3 separate regions of the Homo sapiens genome follow, and regions 2 and 3 are each linked to region 1. The links come from fine-mapping of genetic effects on gene expression. A gene starts in region 1. Each other region holds a variant in brackets. All regions are shown on one strand. Distances are between the middles of the regions. Region 1 holds the start of SYK (spleen associated tyrosine kinase). Region 2 overlaps SYK (spleen associated tyrosine kinase). Region 3 overlaps SYK (spleen associated tyrosine kinase).

What was found. PIP is the estimated chance that this variant, and not a neighbour inherited with it, causes the effect.
Region 2: its variant is fine-mapped to the expression of SYK in whole blood (INTERVAL, PIP above 0.99).
Region 3: its variant is fine-mapped to the expression of SYK in whole blood (TOPMed, PIP above 0.99).

What each region holds. Positions count from the first base shown.
Region 1 is chr9:90,798,591-90,806,775 of GRCh38, reverse strand. It overlaps SYK (spleen associated tyrosine kinase), which reads right to left and starts at 4,957. Exons shown (of 14, transcript NM_003177.7): 1 at 4,883-4,957. RefSeq lists silencers at 4,819-4,978, 4,999-5,208.
Region 2 is chr9:90,881,055-90,889,239 of GRCh38, reverse strand. It overlaps SYK (spleen associated tyrosine kinase), which reads right to left. Exons shown (of 14, transcript NM_003177.7): 12 at 1,351-1,491; 13 at 613-725. Among named protein-coding and RNA genes, the nearest start is that of SYK, 83 kb to the right of the region's middle. The variant T/C (reference allele first, on the strand shown) is at 4,250.
Region 3 is chr9:90,892,810-90,900,994 of GRCh38, reverse strand. It overlaps SYK (spleen associated tyrosine kinase), which reads right to left. Exons shown (of 14, transcript NM_003177.7): 14 at 2,446-5,467. The coding sequence ends at 5,395. Among named protein-coding and RNA genes, the nearest start is that of SYK, 95 kb to the right of the region's middle. The variant T/C (reference allele first, on the strand shown) is at 4,423.

The DNA.
Region 1 (8,185 bases):
AGCATGATTCAGAATGCACCCTGATGGAAGAAATCATAAAAGTTCTATACTACAATAAATAAATAACCATAGAATTAAAAAGCTCTGGAGAAATATTTTCAATAATTATGACAGTGGATTTACAACAGGTAAAATGTAGGTGAGTGTTAACAAGAGGCATATTAATGCCACAGATGTTACAACAAAGAGTATGATAAGCAATTTACATAAAACATATTTAGTCAACAAATATTCCCCATAGGGCTGGGCACAGTGGATCATGCCTATAATCCCAGCACTTTGGGAGGCTGAGGCAAGAGGATTGCTTGGGCCCAGGAGTTTGAGACTAGCCTGGGCAATATAGTGAGAGCCCATCTCTACAAAAAAGAAAAAGAAAAAAAAAAAAGAAAAGTCCCACACCAAATATCCTCCAAACATTCTTCAGGTATTACTGTATGTATAGCAAGACTGAAGAGCAACTGTTAGACAAGAAGAAGATGGAGGGTTCTAGAAAAAAAGAAAGAAAAATGGAACCGTGAGATTACTTGGTATATCTGACACTGTAGAAAATTGTGTCAATAGGGCTTTCATCTTTATGTCAGAAAGTTGGGAAGGAAATGATAATAGGCACAGTGCAAACTAAGAAAACACAAAAACAAAGCAAGGGTTTACCCCAGGAAGAGCAAAAAGGGGTACGAGATAGAAAATGGAATGATATACCTTGCTTTAGCAGTAAACTATATTTATATAACCATAATAAAATAAACCAAATAACTTCTTAATCTCAAATGAGAGAATAATTATCCTGGGATGGTGTGAGAAGGAGTAGAAGGTGATGGTGGTCTAAAACTCCAAAGTCCTGAATTCTCAGTGTCAACAAACACTGTTTAAAATTAGTACACCAAAAAACTTTGAAAATATGCCAATCATAAGGAAATAGTGAGAATTCTAGAGGACATAACTCAAAGCAGTACCAAAGGATGGGCAGAATGAAAAGAGGAACTCATTACAAATTAAAATTAAACAAAAAGAGAAATTAACTTAGGTCACACCAAAACATTTTCATGTCAACTCAACAGGAACTGATAGATGTAATATTAATAAACTACCAGGTTGACCATGGGAAAATAAAGATTTATCAGTTAAGACAAACCAATGGAGGGGAGAAATGAAAGGTCATATGTTGAACATTCAAATGCTACTTATAGTCAGGCAGAGTATACTTAAGTAAAGCAATATTTAAACTGTGGATATTCCTAAATCTCTGCCCTGGGCCCTCCTTCTGTTGAATTTACTTTCTCTCCCTAGTTCACAGTATCCAGGTCGAGAGCCTCCCTCACCCTGCTCGGTAGACCTGCAGCTTGCCTGCAAGGTTTTCACTCAGGTCAAGACATCTCTCATCTGCATCCCAGGCTAAAAGCCCACTGTCTCCTCACACTTATGCTCCCTTCCAGCGCTCCAGGACAGCAGTAACTGGAAGCGCCTCTCCAGCTCAGAGCCAGGATCCCAGTTTCAGAGCTAGACACCTCTGAGCAGAGGACCAGAAAGCTCACAGTACTCCTCAGTAATCCAGTAATCATCAACATTCTTAACTGTCCTCGCTTGCTCCACCACCATCTGCCTTTGGCCAGCTGCCAGAAATCAATACGTGGTGTCCCAGAAAGAAAAGAATCAAGGGAGCCATTTGGATTTATTAAATGTACTGTAACATAAACAAAATATTCTTTCTTTGCATATCTTTGGTCTTGGCTAAATTCAACTGTCTTTAAGATTCCAGTTTAACCACCTTTTAAGAGATGTAGGGCAAACCTTGCACAATTGATTCATAAAGGAAAAAAAAACCTCAAATTGATACAAGCTAATATTGGTCAGATAAAATTATAAGCAAATAGAAAATGTCCCTGATAACATCATATCAAAATGAATGAACTTTCCTAAAATCCAATCAGACTAGTTCTTAAAACATCTTCCCACAATCCCTCAGTAGAAAACCCTTTTTTCCTAGTATTCAAATCCAACCTGTTCAAATCTAAGTAGAAGAGGAAGGTGATAAGACACAAATGAGGCAATTTGATCATAATCTCTCATTAGGACTCTGCCTTCTGATTTTAGTTGCTTTAGAAGAAAAAGTAATGCTCAATGTGTAGACTTCTAAAACAAAACAAATTCTTCCCCAAAGGCCTAAATTCCTGTTGTTGTTGTTGTTTTCTCCACCCAGTTATAGCTAAACCAATCCAGAAGTAGTGGAAAATGTTAAAACCAGCAAAGCAAGAGTAGAAAAGTCAGGGGGTAGCTGGAAAAAAATCTATACAGGGAAAGTTGAGAAAGTAAAAATTAGCCATCACTTAGGCTTAGATAACTGACACAAACCCAGCTGGTTGCAAAGTTAACAGGAAATAATATTTCTTCCATGGACAGACTGCAGCTGTAAAGGGTGACAGTAACCCCTCCTGTAAGTAACTTCTGCTCTGTTTCTCTAAAATGGTAGACTGTCAGAAACTATGCTGTTTGAAATTATATTACAAAGATGAGACATCCACTCTTACTTGAAGTACCTCTATTTTGATCGGTATGATTGAAAATTCAGTAAAATCTTGCTATTTAAGACTCCCTAAAGAGAGAGGAACTGCCCTTCTAATTACTGGAAAGTGTGAAGTATTGAACAACATAAATGCACTTTCCTTTTAAAAGCAAACCGTAGTTCAGTGGAGTCTAATACAGACTCAGTCCCTCAGCTGCAGCTCTAAAAAGCTCTGAAAAACAACACTTTTTTTTTTTTTGGTAAGTCTTAGAGAAGCTCTCGTAGTGATAACACCTGCTCTAAACAGACACACAGCTCTTTATAGTCTTTATTTATTCCACTTAGTGAGAATATTCATGTTCTTAAATGTAAAAGTACAGAAATATTAATGCATGGAATTACAGGATTCTCTCCAGACTATATTGGAATGGCATGTAACCAGCAGGGTCAACATGTATGTTTACCTTTCTAAATTCTGAGCAATGTCTTTCTCAGTTCTGAAATTTAGATTCTAAATTTTAATTCCAAATTCTGAAAAAGCTTGAATTCCAAAATACGTCTTGGCACAAGCATATTGGATTATAACCATGGGCAAACAATGTGCTAAATAAGTGAAGTTCTACTAAGAAGTCTTCCATTAAAAAAAAGCAGAGAGATTAGACCTGCATTTAGAATATTAAATAGGGGCCTAACAAAGATCAGGGTGATTCATTTCTAAAGTGAAATCTAGCAATAAAATAACGTTTCTACCAATTTCATCTCTCAGGAAAGATAAAGACCTAAAGTATACACCCCATTTTTATCCTAGCTTAAAACTTTCTAGTTATTAAGACTATTATAAAATCCTATTTTATATTTCACTTCAAATACAGAGGCTTAAAAAAAAATCTTCCCACAATCCCTCAGTAGAAAAATCTCTTTTTTCCTAGTGTTCAAATCCAACCTTTTCAAATCCAAGGTAGAAGAGTAAGAGGATAAGACACAAATCAAGTAATTTGATTATAATCTCTCATTCAAATACACTTTAAAGTGCACTTCAAATACAGGGGATAATACAAATCAATTTCTGTTTTAATGCAAGAGTTTTCTAAATACGTTAAAACAAAAGTGCCGTTCAGAACAAAAATGATTTGATAAAATAATTTCAACTGACAAAGATTTCTCACTTAAAACACTTAATAATTTACATGTATTTAAGCCTTTTTGAGAAAATATAATTCTATCTATGCACTGCTCGGACTTTCACTGGGGAGAAGGAGGACATCAATGTATTTAGTTGCATTTAATTAAAATGCTGCCTGTGTGAAGGCAATGAATTTGTCCCTACTAAGACAAAGAAGTCAGATGGTAGAATCAATTCCATTTCTTCCAGGAACTCTTAGGGATTAAATGGTTCCTTTTTTTATTTTTAATACCAAGAATCAGATATGGCACAACATCTTCAACTCTTTTTTTTTTTTACTACACGCTGCAATGCTTTGAACTCTACTTGAGTTCGACTGAATCTTTGCTAAGTCAGGCAAAACTCAAAAAATATTTTGCAACACTGTTTCCAACGTAAAAAAAGATTCAAACTCTCACTTCTCCAATTGTCTTTCTAGTCCTTGAACATTCCAACAAAAGAATGGATTGCATTTATATAGTTTTTAGGTGGGCTTAAGGTTTTGGAGCCACATTGCCAAAAACAGACAAACAGACAAAAAGAAACACCCTTAACTCTTAACTCAAATTTACATTTTACTACATAAAACTTTCTTGCTCTCCAAGTTCATTGGCTAAGTAAATTACTTGACAATGAAAATGTATCCACAAGAGTAATTATGCTAAATTTTAGTAGTGGTTCAGAAGGGTTGTTGTTTGAATGCAACTGCTGTTTCTTTTTGTAGTAAAAGATTTGTCTAAGCTCATAAGACGTCTGGACATTTCTACTTTGAGTAACTTTGATAAACACTGCGGCATTTTCCAGTGGATTCGTGTAAATGGCCAAAGGAAAATGTTCTAGCTCCAAGATCGACTTCCTCGCGCTGTGCCTGATCCCAATCCCGCGTCTCCCGAGGGCCGGGCCGCGACCGCACTTTCCGCGCTCCCTGGGGGCCTGGGCGCCCTGGGGTGCCCGGGTCACTTTCCGCACGGTCTGACCTCCGTCCCCTCCGCCCAGGCCTGAGCCCCTCTCTCCCGGCGCAGCTTCTGGATCCCGAGCGCGGGTAGGTTCAGGAGCGAAGCTGGCGGAACCCACCTGTATTTTATTCACATGGTTTCAGCACTTTTACCTCGGCCGATGAAGGTAGAACAAGAAAGGGCATGAAAGCAGCGCGTCGTTCCCCGTAACCTCCTCTCCTTACCAGAAAGTCCCGGCCGGGTAGGGGACGCGGCCACACCTACCTGCGCCAGGTGAGGCGAGGGCGGGCGCAGCGCGGGGCCACCCGCTCCTCCTCGCTCTCCAGCCGCCGCCGGGGTGGCCTCAGCCGCCGGGCCCGCGGCTCTTCCTCATTTTGGGCAACTTCCTTAACGCGCCCGGGCAGGCGGCCCGCACTTCCTCCCAGTGTCGCGCCCCGCCGCCCTGGCCCGCCCTGCTGACCGCGCCCATGAGCCCGGAGCTGGGCGGGAATCGGCTGAAGCGCCGGGCGAGGCCCGCGGAATCGGCCCAGGCGGCGGCAGGTGTAGAGGAGCCCGGGTGGGGCGCGCCTCTCTCCTCCCGCCGGACAAGGGCCCTTCGCAGGCAGAGAAGGTGGGGCTGCCCGGGACATGGACCGCATCGGTCCCCCTCCTCCCCGCCAGCGCGGTGGCTTCTGTGACTGCCCAGGACCCACAGACACCCAGCGGCCCTTTCCTTTTGCTATGCAGTGCCGGGGAAGAGACTCCACTGCATGGCATATTCCCTGGAGTGTATCTTGGTCACCAAACCAACAAGCTCCAAGCTACTGTGCTGGAGCACTCGGGAGGCCTGGGCAGTGCTGAGAGGGACCCTGTAGGTGAACACCAGACTTCACGGCGCACTAGTGGGCAATGGGGCACGCTGCTTCTGAAGGCTTTAATTATTACAAAAGGCTTTGCTTCCTTCTTACCATGACGGCTCTGACGTCCACAACCAAATAAATTAAACCTATAGCCCTAAGAATGGTTTTGAGATACCCGCCTGATACCCTTCTCCCAACCCATCCCCCTTTTCCTTTTGGACATTCCTCTTTAAAATGTTCCCACAAAACGGCATCCAGACCTTCTTGATAACACTGGTTGGCAGTGCCTGTTTTAAAAAGCTTTACCCTAAGCCAAAATGCGAGAAGCAAAAAAATATATATATAATGTGCTGGATTGTAATTGCCATGGAGAAAATATAGGGATGGGACTATTTACACTTATTGGAGCCCCCAGCCTTTTCTGCTTCCAGGGTTATTGGATTTTCATTCATTTTTGCCATTATTTTTTCTAAACCTGTTAAAAGAAAACTTCAGCAGAATTAAATTTAAAGCAGTTTAATTGAGTAATGAATGATTTGCGAATGGGGCAGCTTCCAGAATCACAGCGGATTCAGAGACTCCAGGGATGCCTCATGGTCAGAACATATTTATAGACAAAAAAAGGGAAGTGACATACAGAAATTGGAGGTAAGGCAGAGAAACAACTGGATTGGTTACAGGTTGGCTTTTGCCTTCTTTGAACACAGTTTGAACACTCAGCAGTGTATGAATGGTTGAAGTATGGCCACTGGGATTGGCCAAGACTCAGCTATTGTTAAAGGCACATACTCCTAAATTAGGTTTTCAATCTTGTCTGCCTATTAAGCTAGGTTACAGTTCATCCACAAGGACTCAAATATAGAATACAGAGTCCTTCTCAGATCATACTTAGGTTGCTTTAACAAACATAAATGGAAGATTTTGATAATGGTTATATTTGCTTATCATTGGACTTAATTTTGCTTCAACTACCCGAAAAAATAGCCATTGTTCCTGAGATGGAGCCTGCAGAATGTCTACAGATGGTTTTCAGAGTTGTCAGCATTATTGGAGATGAACACTAGGGGACCAGTGTGTACAAAGCAAACCCAGCCTGCACAAAGATTGCAGTTTTCTCAGGCTTTCACCTGATGGAAATGAGGGGGAAATTCTAGATCCATCTACAACCTCCTTCCTTTACACTGCTGTGTTCCTTTCCCCCTTTGAGTCACCTTCCGCATTACTTAGTATCATGTAGTAATTTTTTTTTTTTTTGAGACGGAGCCTCACTCTGTTGCCCAGGCTGGAGTACAGTGGCCCGATCATCTCAGCTCACCGCAAGCTCTGCCTCCTGGGCTCACGCCATTCTCCTGCCTCAGCCTCCCGAGTAGCTGGGACTATAGGCGCCCGCCACCATGCCCGGCTAATTTTTTGTATTTTTAGTAGAGACGGGGTTTCACCGTGTTCGCCAGGATGGTCTCGATCTCCTGACCTCGTGATCTGCCTGCCTTGGCCTCCCAAAATGCTGGGATTACAGGCGTGAGCCACCATGCCTAGCCTAAAAGATGGTTCACATTATGTATCATCAGGGAAATGCAAATGAAGACAGTAAGATATCAGTATGGCCCAAATTCGGAACACTGACCGCAGTGAACACTAGTGAGGATGTGAAGCAATAGAAATACTCATTCATTGCTGTTGTGAATGCAAGATGGTACAGCCACTGTGGAAGACAGTTTGGCAGTTTCTTATGAAACTAAACATCCTCTTACAACATGAGTAATTATAAGAGGATTGTCCTTCTTGGTATTTACCCAAAGTAGTTGGTATTTACCTAAAGTAGTACCCAGTAATTGTGCTTCTTGGTATTTACCCAAAGGAGTTCAAACCTTATGTTCACACAAAAATCTGCACACAAATGTTTACGCTGGCTTTATTTACTAAGTTTATTGCCAAAACTTGGACACAAACAAGATGTCATTCAGTAAGTGAATGGATATATAAACTCTTGTACATCAGTGTAATGGAATATTGTTCCACACTAAAATGAAATGCACTAGCAAGTTATGAAAAGAAATGGATGAAATCTAAATGCATATTACCAAGTGAAAGAAGCCCTCTGAAAAGGCTACATACTGTATAATTTCAACAGGTGATATTCTGGAAAGAGCCAAACTATCTGGATAGTAAAAAGATCAGTGGCTGCCATGGGCTGGTGGGGAGGGCAGGATGAATAGAAGGAGAACAGAGATTTTTTAGGGCTGTGAAAGTATGCTGTATGATATTACAATGGTGGATACACAGCACTATACATTTGTTAAACACCATACAATATACAACACCAAGAGGGAACATCAGTGTAAACTTCAGGCTTTGGGTGATTATGATGTGTCAAAGTAGGTTCATCAATTGTAACAAATGTACCAGTCTGATGGGGCTGTTGATAATGGGAAAGGCTGTGCATGTGTGAGGTCAGTGGGTATATGGGAAACCTCGGTACCTGCCTCTCATTTTTACTGTGAACCTAAAACTGCTCTAAAAAATAGTGTTTAATTTAAAAAAATAGTTTTTTTGGTAACAGTGGCAAGTATTCCTAATAGGCAATCCCTTAAAAGAATAAAAGCACAAAGGAAATAGAAACATCCCAAATTTCAGACATAATCATCATTACCGTTAGGTGACCCTTACAAAATTATCTCTTTCTATATGTACACATGGCAATAGATATAAAAATGGGCATCATTTTAAA
Region 2 (8,185 bases), 82 kb before region 1:
ATTTTCCTTCCTTGCTGAGCTGCCCTGAACATCACCTAAGAATAATGCCAGGTGTACTTTAAAAGCATAACAGCACCTGGGATCCACTAAGCGAGACGTATGACGGCAGTCAGGGTGGACTGAGGCCACCACTTCAAGGATGAGGTAGATTCTAGGGAAGTGCAACCTTAGCCAATGTATCTGTGAGCTGGCCAGAGTCCGAGGTCACCCCTCACTGCTCATGGTAATCAGGGAGTCAGGAAAGTATACCATCCCCTACCGAGTGCTTCTGCCATCCTCTATGCCAAAAATGGCATCCAGCCCCAAACTCTTACAAACACTTTTTTACTTTGACTGCCCTTGCCCCATCTCTCCACCATTATCGACATTTAAATTTGGACACTCGGGTTAGAGTCCCCATCTAAACTTGCTCTTTAGGCTCTACTACATGTAAGTGCATGGGCCAGAAAGCAAGGTCTCTAAAGCAAGACCAGCCCCCACCGTTGTTTGTTTAGAAAGCGGGCACATTCCTGATTCATGAAAAGGTGAACTTTATCCTTTTTTTTAGACGCCCAACCATTTCACCTGTTTCCAGAGCATCTGAATACATCACAGTCAGTGTCAGGTACTCACTCGTATGTCCAGCACAGATTCATGAGATCGTACATCTCTCTTGGACACCCTGCAGGGCACCCCATCCGCTCTCCTTTCTCTAACATAGCGGTGACTTCACTTCCTTTCATCCCCTACAACATGCAAGATATGCATAAGCTTTTTTTTTTTTAAAGGTGTTAGTCAAACAAAACAAAACAGCCACTCCAAGACATGAAGGAGTACACATTGTATGATTTCAATTATACGAAGTATAAAAACAGGAGCACTTAATCTGTGATGTTGGAGTCAGTTGGGTCACCCCTGGGGAAGGCTGTGTGTGCAGAGGAAACAGGCTTCTGGGGTTCTGTTCTTCATCTGGGGGCTGATTTCATGGGTATGTTTCATTTGTGGAAAACCACTGTACTGCATGCTAAGAGTTGTGCCCTTTTTGGTATATATGTTTTAATTAAAAGATCTAAAAAATGTAATTAAGATACTGTAAATAGTCATTATTTCTATTTCAACTCTAATGAGTAATGATCTGGGTTATATTTTGTGTATATTTACATGTGTTGACACACAATGGGAAAAACACACTCTTCAGTGAGCATCAGATATTTCATTCTCAGTTTGGAATAGACTGAGGGCACATTAACTGCTTACTGGTAAAAGATAATGAGAGACTCAGATTAGGATTTTCAGGTTGTTGTAAAGACAATCTGGTGCTTATCTGTTCTAATGGCCCCACAGTGAGAAAATGAAGCAGGACTGGCTCACTCGATATGGCTTCTGCCCATAGGAGAATGCTTCCCACATCAACACTCCAAAGCTCCAGACATCGCTTTTGCTGGAGAACTTGTAGTAGTTGATGCATTCCGGAGCGTACCACTTGACAGGCCACTTTCCATGGGTCTGGGCCTAAAAGCAAAGCAGAGGGAGAAATTCCATTAAGAATAAAATTGTGGGCCGGGCACATTGGTTCATGCCTGTAATCCCAGCACTTTGGGAGGCTGAGGAGAGCAGATCACTTGAGATCGGGAGCTTGAGACCAGCCTGGCCAAGAGGAAACCCCATCTCTATTAAAAATACAAAAATTAGCCAGGTGTGGTGGCGGGTGCCTGTAATTCCAGCTACTTGGGAGGCTGAGGCAGGAGAATTGCTTGAACCCAGAAGGCAGAGGTTGCAGTGATCTCAGATCACACCACTGCACTGCAGCCTGGGTGACACAACGAGAGACTCCATCTCAAAAAAAAAAAAAAAAGAAAGAAAGAAAAGCATAAAATTGTGTACATTCATGTTCATAGCAGCATTATTCCCAATAGCTAAAACATGAAAGCAACCCAAGTGTCCTTCAGCAGATGAGTGGATAAACAAAACACCCTCTATATAGACAATGGAATAGCATTCAGCCTTCAAAAGGAAGGGAATTCACTACAATATGCATGAGCCTAGAGGACATTATGCTGAGTGAAATTGAGACAGGAGAATAGGGCCTGGAGGCAGGGAACCTAAGGACTTCCTAGAACTAAATCAAATGGAAACACTTCAGCTATGACAGGAAATATCCTCTTCATTTACACAGGGTGTACACTCAGTAAATGACTTTGTAACATTACTTCATCCTCCTCATTTACATAGGGTGTACACCAAGTAAATAACTTTGTAACTTCACTTTAGCCTCTTCATTTACATAGGGTGTACCCTAAGTAACCAGTGAACACCTCTAGAGGTGTATATATATATATACACACCACATTTTCTTTATCCATTCATCCATCCATGGACAGTTAGGTTGATTCCACATCTTTGCTATTGTGAATAGTTCTATGATAAGCACGTTGAGTGTATGTGTCCCTTTGATACAAGTTTATTTGCCTCTGGATAAATACCCAATAGTAGACTTGCTGGATCATATGGTAATTCTATGTGTAGTTAGTTTTTTTTTCTTCTTTTTGTTTTTGAGATGGAGTCTCACTCTATCGCCCAGGCTGGAGTGTGCAGTAGTGTGATTTCAGCTCACTGCAAGCTCCGCCTCCTGGGTTCATGCCATTCTTCTGCCTCAGCCTCCCAGGTAGCTGGGATGACAGGCACCTGTCACCAGGCCTGGCCAATTTTTTGTATTTTTAGTAGAGACAGGGTTTCACCGTGTTAGCCAGGATGGTCTTGATCTCCTGACCTTGTGATCTGCCTGCCTCGGGCTTCCAAAACTGCTGGGATTACAGGTGTGAGCCACCGTGCCCAGCCTGTTTTTGTTTTGAGAAGTCTCTCTAATATTTTCCGTAGTGACTATACTAATTTACATTCCCACAAACAGTGTATAAGAGTTCCTTTTTTTCCTGCATCTGCAAAGCATTTTTTTAAAAAAAGTCTTTTTAATAACAGCCATTCTAGCCGGGGTAAGATGGTATCTCATTGTGTTTGTAATTTGCATTTCCCTGCTGTTTGGTGATATTGAGCATTTTTTCATATACCTGTTGGCCATTTGTATATCTTCTTTTGAGAAATGTCTATCTATGTTCTTAGCCCACTATTTAACAGGATTATTTGTATGTTTGGTTTACCAGTGAGTTTTATACTTTTGTGTGTTTTTATGATGGTAAATATTGTCCTTTTACTTCCACGTTTAAGATTCCTTTGAGTATTTCTTCTAGGATCAGTCTAGTGGTGATGAATTCCCTCAGTGTTTGCTTACCTGGGAAAGGCTTTATTTTTCTTTTATTTATGAAGAATAGTTTTGCTGGACATGGTCTCCTTGGGTGGCAGTATTTTTCTTTCAGCACTTTGAAAATGTCATCCCCTTCTCTCCTGGCCTGTAAGGTGTCTGCTGAGAAATCCACTGTTAGTCTAATGGTGGTTCCTTTATGGGTAATTAGAAGATTTTCTTTTGCTCTTTTTAGTATATTTGCTTTTGCTTTGACTTTAAGTGGTTTGATTATAACGTGCTGTGGAGAAGATGATTTTGCATTGTATCTGTTTGGGGACCTTTGGGCCTCCTGCATCTGGATGTCTAGGTTTGTTGTTATATTTGGGAAGTTTTGATCTAATATTTCATTAAATAGGATTTCTAATCTTTCATTCTCTCTTCACCCTTGGGGACACTGATGATTTGAATATTCAGTTGCTTTACACTGCCCCATATATCATGAAGGGTTTGCTCATTCTTTTTTATTCTTTTCTCTTTATTTTTGTCTGAATAGGTTGTTTCAAAAGACCTGTCTTCAAGTTCTGAGATTCTTTCTTTTGCCTGATCTAGTCTATTGGTGGAGTTTGGGATGTATTTTTTATTGCATTCAATGAATCTTTAGTTCCAGAATTTCTGTTTGGTTCTTTTAAAAATATCTATTTCTTTGATAAATTTCTCATTCATATCCTGAACTGTTTTTCTGAATTCTCTCTATTGTTTTTCAGAATTCTCTTATATCTTATTTAGCTTCTTTAAAATCAATATTTTGAATTGTTCATCTGGGGTTTTGTGAATTTCTTTTTGATTGGGATTTTTTTGCTGGAGAATTGTGTGTTCCTTTGGAGGTATCATATTTCCTTGCTTTTTCATGTTTCCTGTGTTCTTACATTGATATCTGCCCATGTGGTACAACAGTCATTTCTTCCAGTTTTTTGAAATTGCTTTTGTAGAGGAGGTCTTTTTCCTGAAAATATATATATGTTGTTGGGTATA[T/C]ATATGTTGGGTATATATATATATACACATATATGTGTGTATATATATACACATATGTGCATATGTATATATATGTATATATACACATATGTGCATATGTATATATATGTATATATGTATATATGTATATACACACATATGTGTGTATATGTATATACACACATATGTGTATATGTGTATGTACACATATGTGTATATGTGCATGTACACATGTGTATATGTGCATGTACACATATGTGTATATGTGTATATGTACATGTACACATATGTGTATATGTGTATATGTACATGTACACATATGTGTATATGTGTATATATGTACATGTACACATATGTGTATATGTGTATATATGTACATGTACACATATGTGTATATGTGTATATATGTACATGTACACATATGTGTATGTGTATGTATGTACATGTACACATATGTGTATGTGTATGTATGTACATGTACACATATGTGTATGTGTATGTATGTACATGTACACATATGTGTATGTGTGTGTATGTATATGTACACACATATGTGTATGTGTATGTATATGTACACACATATGTGTATATGTATGTATATATACACATATGTGTATGTATGCATATATACACGTATGTGTGTATGTATGTATACACGTATGTGTATGTGTGTATATATACACGTATGTGTATGTGTATATGTGTGTATATATACACGTATGTGTATATGTGTGTATATATACACGTATGTGTATGTGTATGTGTATATATACACGTATGTGTATGTGTATATGCGTGTATATATACACGTATGTGTATGTGTGTATATATACACGTATGTGTATGTGTGTATATATACACACACACATATATATATGTAGGGCACTTTGGGTTTGATTTGGGGTGAATGCAGTATTTAATCTATGTATAATTTCTATGGCCATAAACAGCCTCAGTGACACCTGTGATTTTCTCAGTGCCTTAGGGTATGGTTATTAGTGGAGGCTGTTGTGAAGGTGTACTGTGAATAGGATGCTAGGTGGGCCAGTCTTCAGACCCCAGTGGTGACAGCAGTGAGCTGAGTATGCCTGTCCTTGGGCCCTAGGGCGGTATACACTAGCACTGGTGTTAGTAGGTCTAAGAAGGCTGACCCTTGGGCTTTCAGGTAGATTGTGTGGATGCTGCAGTGGCTGGGCATGTGGGCAGGTTCTTGGGTTCCTGGGGAGTGGGTGTGATGTGGGTGATGGCAGTAATGGTGGTAGGGCAACTCACTGGAACCCAAGTGGTCCATGTTGGTGTTGGCGGTGGCTGCAACAGGATGTCATGCTCAAGTATTGGGGCATGTGACTAGGCCAATGGACTTGTGCTCAGGCTCCCTGGTGGTGCATTCAGCTGCTGGCTGTGATACGCAGGGAGGGGTGGTCTCTAGGTTGCCAGCAGTGGCTGCCCTGAAGGCCTACCACCAGAAAGGGTAGGGCCACTCTCAATAGGTGCAGAGTAGGCAGGTAGCTGTGGGATATGCAGTCTTCTTGAGCCTTGGTCCCACAGCAGCCCTCAGCAGTGGTGGTGGTATTTGTTTTTGTGGCATGTGAAAGTGCCTGGCCTCCCTTCTCCCTATGTGGCGGGGCAGTGGCAGCATCAGCCCTGGCCCAAGGAAGGACACAGACCTTTGGAGGCTTGGCTCTCAGAATGGCGCTGGCTATGGGCCTGCTCCTGGGGAGGCTGCGGACATTCTCAGGGGGAGCAGTGTAGGCAGGCAGCTATAGGGGGTGTGATTTGCTTGTGTCTCAGCCCCACAGCAGCCTGTAGCAGCAGGGGGATCTGTCCCTGGGGTGTGTGAAGGTGTCCATTCTCCCCTCTGTCCTTGGCCTGGTGATGGCAGCATCAGCAATAGTCCCAGGGCAAGATGCAGTCCTTTGGGGACTTGGTTCTCAGTATGGCACCAAGCTGCAGCTACTCAGAGCTTGGAAGCCTGTGGGACTCAGCGTGAGTTCCCTCTATGGAGCAATGCCTCTGTGTGATCCCTAGGCAGCTCCCTATGTTAGTCTTAAGGCCCACGTGGGTCGAGGGGTTCTTCTGTCGCTAGGATTGTAGAAGTCCTTGGCTGGAATGTGGAGCCCTGGGGATCTCTCATTTATGCTTTCCCCATATCTGGAAGCTTCTCCCAGCTCCCAGTCATTCCTGGCCAAGCAGGCTGCCTTGTTTCCCTGTGCTTTGCTTTTGGTGCTTCCTGTCGCTCCTTGGTTGCATCTGTGTTCTCTCTTAGACCATCTATTGGAAGTGTGAATATGTACTTGTTATTTTGGTCCGTCTCTACGGAGGAGCATATACTAGTTGCATTTAGTCGTCCATCTTGATCAGTTCTCCACCCAGGTCAATTATTTTAGCATGCACTACTTGCTAGCATCATTAAAAAATGATCTAAGCATTCTAATTTCCTAATTTTAAAAAGCAAGTGATAGTACAGAGGTCAAAACTGCATAGCAAAACCCTCTCTCTGGGTTTGGGATTCAGGGGGCACACAGCGGAGTCTGGTTATCTTCTGCTGATGTCACCTGTGTGAGGTCTCATTGGGGTGGAGAGGGGGACATGATTTCAGTGAAAACTGATTTCATGACACTACAGTGGATCACAAGGAGACATTCAGGACATCAATCTGGAGACCATAAGGTGCCCTGGCACTTCTCTTCCAAATGATACAACTGATTATACTTCTGTTTCCATCACCTTGTGTGCTATTTTAAAATTTTGATCTTACAAGTCATGAACAATACAACCATGTGTGTTATTTCAGGTTTCTTCTGAATTTTGAACTGATGAAAAAAGTAAACCTTTGACAAATCTTAAATGCAATGAAATTTAGGCTGTCTTCAGAATAACCTAGATACATGCATAAATAGGTAGTGTATACTTTTTTCTGGTCATAAAACTAGGGGCATATTCTTTGAGCACTGTACTTTTTAATTTTTCTACCTAACCATGTATAGTAGACATATTTCTAGGTCAGCACATGCAAATAAGTCACTTTTAAAAGGGTTGCATTGTGAGCTTCCTGTGAATCTGCTATGACTGATTGGACCAAACCCTGCGGAGCAGTCGTCAGGCAGTTTCCAGATTTTTGCCGTGGCAGCCCGTGCTAGAGTGCACATTACCAGATGTGTGTGTTTGCTCTCGGAAGGAGCTGCTGGATCAAAGAACACCTGTGTTTTTCAGTTGTGATGCTGCACAAATCTACCCTGTCACGCATGGTTTCCCGAGTGCCAGCGTTCGTTTGCTTCCACAGCTAGCACTTTTCTTTGATCTTGTTTCACTTTTTATTCCTTTTTTTTTTTGAGACAGAGTCTTGCTCTGTTGGCCAGGCTAGAGTGCAGTGGCACGATCTCAGCTCACTGCAACCTCCACCTCCCGGGCTCAAGCAATTCTCCTGCCTCAGCCACCAGAGTAGCTGGGATTACAGGTGCCTGCCACCATGCCTGGCTAATTTTTGTGTTTTTAGTAGAGACGGGATTTCACCATGTTGGCCAGGCTGGTCTCGAACTCCTGACCTCAGGTAATCCACCCACCTCAGCCTCCCAAAGTGCTGGGATTACAGGCGTGAGCCACCACGCCCGGCCCACTTTTTATTCTTTTCCATTTCACTTTGCTTTGTTTTCATACAGAAATCTTCCACTACCCTATCTTTTCGGTAGTTTTGTCTCTTTTTGCTGCTTCCAAGATGGCTTTTATTTCCCTAGTGGCTTTTTTTCTTCATTGATTGTCCAAAGACAATCTTTGGTTTACTTTTTAGTTTAGTTTACTTTTTAATGGTATGCTGTTTAATATCTACAGCAGTTTTAGAATTGGCCCCATGTTCTTTGACTCTTTGACACTTCTCCTCAAAAGGGTGGTTCTATCTATCCCATCCTTTGAAGCTGGTGGCCTTGGCTGCTCTGACCAATAGGATCAGGTGGAAGTGAC
Region 3 (8,185 bases), 94 kb before region 1:
CAGTGCTCTTTGGAGCTATTAGTAGATTAATGTGCACTGTGAATGTACTTGGCCATGTTTTCTAAGTTAGTTAATCAGGGAAACTGCGTGCTGTAGAGCGTGTCTCCACCTTCCAGACTCATATCCCGGAAGACACTTTGTGAAATGCCTTTTTTGGGGATGCTCTTTGGAAATGTCAGGCCACAGGAGACAGAGCATGGAGCAGGAGGGGGTGGGAGGTCCCACAGCACAGAGGTGTTGGTCCCTGTTGCAGCCTAACACCAGAGAGGAGGTAATAATTCGGTAGGGTTGCTTGCCCAGAAGCAGGGATGAATTTCCACCCTGAGACCACCAGCGAGTAACCAAGAGAGGAAAAGAGACACGGCATTGTTTATCACAAACTAAAACATAATTTAAAAACCAAAATCTGCCTTTTTCAAAGTGCTCCCTTCCTCCCTAAAATGAGAATATATTTATCTATCAGTTCTAAAGTCCCCTCCTCATCTCCGAAGGACAAGCCCCGGGGTCTTAAACCGCTTCTCTGCTGCAGCTCAGGCTAGTGGTAAAGCCATCTCACTGCAGTGCAGTGATACATTATCACAAGAGTTTTTCCCTCCCTGGGGTTGAAGCCAAAGGCCAGTGCTTATTTCCAGAGCTGTCCTAGGGCCTGCGCCGTCTGCTGCCTGCAGCATTCCTCCCAGCAGATGGCCACTGGCATGAACAGCACAGACCATGGCATCTGCTGACATTTTTAGAATAAGGCCACTGTGCTGGCACTTACATGTGTCAGCATAGGCACCCTCAGCTGAAATTGTGGTGCTCAGGGGTTCAATTTATAGGACATGCCTAAGGTCAGTGCTGGAGCCCAGTGGTCTCTTGTGTGTTGTGTTCTTCTCTGACTTCAGGGCTCTTCACCACCCCACTGTATTTGGAGCAGCCCCCCGCAGGCCACTGGGCTACTGGGCAGTCTGTGTCCTTCCCATCTCCCAGCTGACCCAGGGAGCCTTGGCCCAGCCAACTTAATTGTTTCCTCCAAACCTAACTTGGCTTGGCAAGAGCAGAGGGGACCCAGGGGAGGCTAGGATGGAAGATTGTGAGGAGAGTCCCTTAGTGCTTGACACCAGAGAGGGTGGTAATGAAGATGGATACAGACACGAGGGTGTGTCCACTGCAGGACCACTGCCTCACATGGATTTTTAAGTGGTTATTTGGAGTAAGGTTCAGTATGTGCGGTGGTGTGTGCGTTTTGTGTGTGTGTGCTTGCGTGGTGTGTGTGTATGGCATAGTATGTGTATGCGCAGTGTATGTATGTGTGTGGTGTGTGAAGGTGTATGTGGTATGTGTTTGGTATGTGTATATGTGTACTGTGTGGTGCATGCATGTTCTGTGTATTTGTGTGCATGTGTATGTATGTGTGCCCGTCTCTGCATATGTGTATGTATATGTGTGCATGTGGGTACAGGTGTATGTACATGCATGCACATGTGTGCACATGTGTGAATGCATGTGTACATTTGTGCATGTGCTTATGTGTGTGGATGCATGTGTTCATGTAAATGCATGCATTTGTGCCCATGCACATGTGTATGTACATGTGTGCATATACATGTATGCACTGACATATATGCATGTGTGCATATGTACACGTGTGCATGCCTTCTGTGCATGTGTGAATGCATGTGTGCATGTGGATGTATATGTGTGCATGTCTGCGCATGTGTGTAACCTCCTTAGAACAGGCAGAAATTGGGGCTCTGGAATCCTTTCTTTGCCTACCGCAGTTCCTTTTAGGCTGTCTTCATAGAGAAAGGGATAGCTCAAAACCCACAGCCCTGCTTTGGCCTGATGGGGGATTTCTGGGTCTCCTCAGTCTGTCTTTTATTAGGCAGGCCATGGGCTGTCAGGCCCTGGCTGGGTAGATGCTCTGCTCATGAATAAAAGATAGAGGCAGGGCAGGACAGGGCCCTCCCTGATGGGCCTCCCCGCCGTTCTGTGTGGTGGAATCTCACAGTCAACTTTGACCTGTGCACATCCACTTTTTTTTTTGAGATAGGATCTTGCTCTGTCACCCAGCTGGGAGTGCAGTGGTGCCATCACAGCTCATTTCAGCCTCGACCTCCCAGGCTCAAGCAATCTTCCTGCCCCAGCCTCCCAAGTAGCTGGGACTACAGGTGCATACCACCACACCCGGCTAATGTTTTGATTTCTGCAGAGCTAAAGTCTTACTATGTTGTCCAGGCTGGTCTCAAACTCTGGGCTCAAGAGATCCTCCTGCCTTGGGCTCCCAAACTGCTGGGATTACAGGCATGAGCCACTGCACCCGGCCAACACATTCACTTTTTTGGGACATGGCAGGGACTTAATGTTTTAGAAAACATTTAGCTACCCCTTTGACAATGCTGCTTGACACTATTTGACAGTGTGACTTACCACATCCTAATAACTTCCATGAAAATCATCACAAAGCAAATTTTAAATTTTTATTAAAAATCACAGTTTTTAAAAATGTCCAGTGACACAATGTAGCTCTTCTGAAATGAATGGAAAACACAACACACTGCTAACCAGTGGAGGGAGCTCTCTGCAGGGCTGGGAGACCTGACAATGCAGCTGTAGCCTCTGCAAGTGAAAATCCAGGCCGACTTGCAGTCATTGGACTGATGTCCAAGTGCAATCACCATACAGCAGCTACAGGCAGGGCTGGCTGATAGGGAGTATGGGAGAAGGACACGCTCAGATGAAAACATGCATGCAACGATTTTCACCACTGAACACACTGTTTTCTGTGATAGAAACTGTCGGCCCTGCTGGGGGACAAGATATTCACGGCCTCACTAGCCAGTGTGATGCCACCAGGGCAGCCTGCCCCTGATGCTCCTTTGTTACCTGCTAAAGAAGGACCATAAGGTAAAAGGCACCTTACCTTATGGAGTGAGCCCAGACCCCAGGGAAAAGCTTGGGTAGAACAATCCAAGGGGCAGCCTGGGTATGAGAATCCAGCCCAAGCTAGCTGCTCTAGAAGCCTGGAGGCCTTTCCCAGCTTCCCAAATGTAGCCCTTTTCACATGACCAATCCTTCAATTAGGTTACCTTTCTCTATTTGCCCTCCTTGGTGGCTACAGGGGAAAGGATAATTATTCCTGACCACAAGACACATTTTCACTAGAAAAGACTTCCTCGTGCTGGCCACAGTGGGAATTCTGCACACAGGTGCCTGCTCCACCAAGCAGAGAGGCTCAGGAGATTGTCCAGGGACAAGGAGACCTGGCCGGACCTCTGCAGGGAGGTGAGGCCCCTGCCCCCATCTTGTCCCATCACATTCTGGATGTTTGGCATCCCCAGGCTCCTGGGAGGGGAGAAGTGCTGATAAAAAGGCCAAAAATCACACAGAAAGAAGACAGAAAACTCCACGCACTTCCTACATAGGTGCTACCGTATTCCTACGAGCACGGGGCCTGTGTTGAAGACTCCCTCTGGAAGTTACAGAAGGAAGCCACCAAGAGTTCAGCCTCACAGCCTCTTTCTCAGATGCAGTCACCACTTTACCAAACTTGGCACATCCAACCACTCCTTTCATAATTTTACACCTGTTTGTGGCCTGGCTGACAGATATTTTGTCATTGATCTTTCTAATTTCAGGGATTCTAAATGTGTTTTGAGAATCTGCTCAGCACTCAGGGATTCTGTCTTTAAAAATATGATTAAACCACCAGATAGTGTGATTTCAGAAAGTGTGCGTGGCTACCAAAAACTTCTAAACACAAGTTATATGAGTGACTCCTGTCTTCTGTGGCTGAGCTTGGGTACTGATTGTCTTTCTCCATGCCTTGCATCCCCTGTTAGAGGAGGGCCTGCTGTCCATGGCTGTCCATGCACTTTAAAATGTCTCAGGTTTAGCTGAAGACCAGATGGGTCCAAGTTTATTTATATCTGCTGGCATAAGAATGATGGCTAAATTACCTCTTTAAGTTGTTTTTTTGTTTGTTTGTTTTGACAGAGTCTCGCTGTGATGCCCAAGCTGGAGTGCAGTGGCATGATCTTGGCTCACTGCGACCTCCGTTTCCTGGGTTCAAGCGATTCTCCTGCCTCAGCCTCCCGAGTAGCTGGGACTACAGACACATGCCACCATGCCCGGCTAATTTTTGTATTTTTAGTAGAGATGGGGTTTTACCATATTGGCCAGGCTAGTCTCAAACTCCTTACCTCAAGTGATCCACCCGCCTCGGCCTCCTAAAGTGCTGAGATGTCTCTTTAACTTTCAAGAGGTACAGCAAAACTGAAATCAATGGGTGATGACTTCTTAAAGATCAAACATGAAGATGAGGATTAGTTAAGACCAGAAAATCATTCTCCGATCTTGTATCTTCAACTCAAATTCACACTCCAAAAGGCCTGTTTGTGGTGAGGCTCAGGGTCTTTGGCTTGTTCTGAATTAATACTTTCT[T/C]TGGAAACTCTTTAGATGGCTTTGATCCCTGTGCTGCCCCCCATTGCAGACACAGAAAGCGACAGGGGATTCTGGCGGCACCCTCTCTGTGGAGGAGAGGAAGGTGTGGACCACGTTCAGAGGAAGGCAGCCTGAAGCTGTCCTCAGTGAGATGCTGGGGGATGGGCCTCTTGCCCCTGCTGTGCAGCCTCCATGCAGGGCTTTATTTACCAGTCACCAGGTCTTCAAGACAGTCTGCAGGAGAGAGGATTTCAGGGGGAAAGTAAGCCAAGCCAATTCATTCTCATGGTCCCCTTTTATCACAAACATGTAAGTCTTCCATCTCATAACAGAGACAGCAAAAGCAGTATCCAGGCCTTTTTTTTTTTTCTTTCTTTCTTTCCTTAACTGGCTACATGCTTAGAAACTGCACTGGTCAAACTTGATTTTCTTTTTAAAGCCTCAAAACATTTTTATTGTCAGGAAAGCTTTTCAGTGGCCAGGGATCAGTCTCATGGCCGTAGAAGCAGCCAAATTCCTCTGCCTTTGCCTTCCCTTCAGGAGTCACATGCTAAGGCATCCTTGGGCATTTGGAAAAGGCCGCTTGGGGTGAGAGTGCTCTAGGCCACTCTGCAATGTCCCTGGGCCCGATGAGTAACAAATGCACCCCGGGACCCAGAGAAGTGGAAAGACATGAAAGGGATTTGGAAACAGATCGTAAAAATAACCTGTATGAAAATCACACAGACAAGAAAACAAACAAATCCAGCTAGCCCCTTGGATCCTGCCATCCGTCTTTTCTCCCGGGACTGCCTTTGCTTTGTGGAGGGTGAGTCCTGGGACAGGCTTTGGGTGACAAGTTGTGGGCATGTTCCATCCAAGCCTGGCTCTCCCGACTGGCAGAGGGAGGTGGCTGACAATCAATTCCTCTGGATACATTTTCCTGTGATTGCTCCTGTGATCAAAGGCAGCCACCGACAGGTGCGGGAGCGGTTAGTTCACCACGTCATAGTAGTAATTGCGCAGCCGCAGTTCCACTGCTGCGAATCCGGGCCTGTTTTCCACACTGGAATGGAAGAGATGCATTCTTGTTTGTCAATGTGCTTGTGAAAAATTGCTGATCACAAGCAGGGCCTCTGCAGGCTGAGTACCAGTGGTGCTGCTCCCTGGTGGCTAACTCTAGGGCCTGCAGCTCACAGCGTGGTCCCTGTGCCCCCCACCCCAGGGTGACCACAAGGCTGTCAAAAATAGTGTCGGCCTACTGTAGACCTAAATAACCCATATCTGCACTTTAACAAGACCTCCCGGTGATTCATGTCCACCCTAAAGTAGGAGACTTTTTGCATTAGAACTGGGAGTGTTTTAGCCCCAGGTTCAGATATGCGGCACACAATATGCTTCTGTGCCACAGGCAACACGAAGAGGCTGTCACTCTGTGATTTTAGCAAAACAGGTGTCTGAAAATACTTGGCAAATGTTCTGCAGATATAGTCAACATCTGACTCATAATCTTGTTAAGAGAAGAAATACGAACATAACTTTAATTCTCCCTTTCCACGCTCTAATCGATGGCTCTGGATTTTCTGAAAATGGGCTGTTGATATGGGTTCTTAGGAAAGCTCAAAACATGTCATGGCAGGAGCAAAGACCCAGGGCTTGTCTATGATCCACCTTAATATAGCCAGTCCTTACTGCCACTGCTGGCCAGGGAGGCACTAATGTCAGTAAACTATGGGCAAAAGCATTAACAGTTCGCAGTCTCTAAACAAACACTTACAGACACTTCTGTTTTGTCTTACACAGACATCCTGTACAGATCAGTTGGAAGTAAGTACTAAAACCCTGATAATCGATCCTCACTTAGAAGTTATTTTTCTTATTTTGCAAGATTTCTGGATATATTGCAAGTGGGTGAAGTTGAAATACAATAAGTGAAAAAGTGAAACAGAATGTGAGGTTAAATTGTAGGAAACCGTCCACATTCAGCCATTTTGACCTATATCAATGGCAATTTCATATGATTCAATGTCGACACAAGAGAACAGCCATAGAACGCGCATCAGGACCAAGACTCACTCATCATTATAAGAGCAGAGTGGCTTCTACAAATCAAAATGGGTAGCTTTGTCAAATGGCATCAAAATACATGGTTTCTCTTATAGCTTTCAATAGTGAGCAAAATGATAAAACTGCTCGAATTGATCAGTGTGGTCAGCCATCTGTGGTCATGTCTGGGGACACGGGCCTCCCAGGGTGTCACTGAGAGGGGCTTTGTCTCTGGCCACCAAGTGTGTTCCGAGAGGGGATATGGTGGCCAAGCCTCTGGTACAGGAGCATGTGTCCACCCAGAGGGACAGCCTCTGTCTTGCTCCTAAACTTCTACAGTCAAAGAGAACACACTTCAGCATCTTTGCAAAACAGGGGGCTCTGCTCCAACTGTGGGGATCCAAATGGTACAAAGAGCACCTTTGGATCTTGCTCTGGGGGTTCATCTGCCCAGCAGCCAAGGAGCAAACAAATGCAGGGAAACAGGAATACAGACTCGTCCTCAGGAAAAACACCTGGTCAGGTCTCCTAGGAAATCTCTCCTGTACATCCATGGGAGATGCTGCCTCCAGGAAGCTGGGACACAGCTGTGCTTCAGCAGCAGGAGGGTGATGCAGTGCCCTTGCGTGCCCAGCTTCCTGGCCTGCCCTGGCCTGCCACTCTGCTTTCGGGCCAGAGTGCAGATTCTGCTCTGCTCCTTGTACCCAGTGACCCTCCTCCTCTCCCCTCATCCCTGCACTCAACCTTGCTTCTTAGCCTGCAGGTCTCAGCTGCAATCCCTAAAGGCGGCCTATCTGGAGCCCCTGCTGGAAGTGTGAGGCTTCCCTCCCCATAATTTTCTGTTCTCTTTTAAAGTTTCCAGTGTGTGATTTTATATAAAGAGATATATGGTCTTTATCCTGGGTTCCTGGCACAGAGCTCCTAAAACCCTTGGAATTTCCTGATTGTTGGGCTGAAAGCAGCATCTTTTGTTACTCATAATAAACCCCCTTCAACCATACCTGGGTTTGTGCTAATGAGACTATTTCTCTCCCTCCCTCCCTCCTTCTCTCCCTTCATCTACCTCCCTCCCGCTCTCTCTGTCTGTCTCTATATATCACCTTGGAGAGAGTGGCTGTTTACTACTGAGGAAAAAATGAAAAAACAAAGCAAAACAAAACAAAACAGAGAATATACTAGGACCACCTGTAGTCCCTTCATTGAATCCACCACATTCTAGAAGCTCCAATGTGCTTCTGTGCTGCAGGCAACTGTGAGAAACTACTTCGACACGAGAGGGCTTAAAAAACCCCATATATACACGTGATATCCTCCAGGCCCCTGTGCCCTCCTTGCTTAGAATTCCCACTGGAGTCATCCCTTTCCTAAGACACATCATAGGACACACTTATTTTTAGCTTATTGTTTATTGCCTGTCTGCCCCAGCCCCAACTATAAGGTCTGATAGGGACAGGGTCTGAGGCTTCTGTGAGGCTTGCACCTGGGGTGGCAGCCTGCATAGCAGGAGCTCCGGCAGTGGCCACCGACCCTGTGAATGACCCAGGGCTCTCAGAGGATGTGCCGCTCAGAGGAAAGCCTTGGAGCTGAGGTTGTGCAGGGAGCCAGGGGACATCTCACCAAGGTCCTGGGAATTCATGTTTTATCTTGGGCTTGTTGATCTTTAAACAGGAATTTGAGCCGCATCTAGAGCCTCCCTGACTCTCAGAGAACCTGGAGAGCCCAGGAAATTTCTCCATTC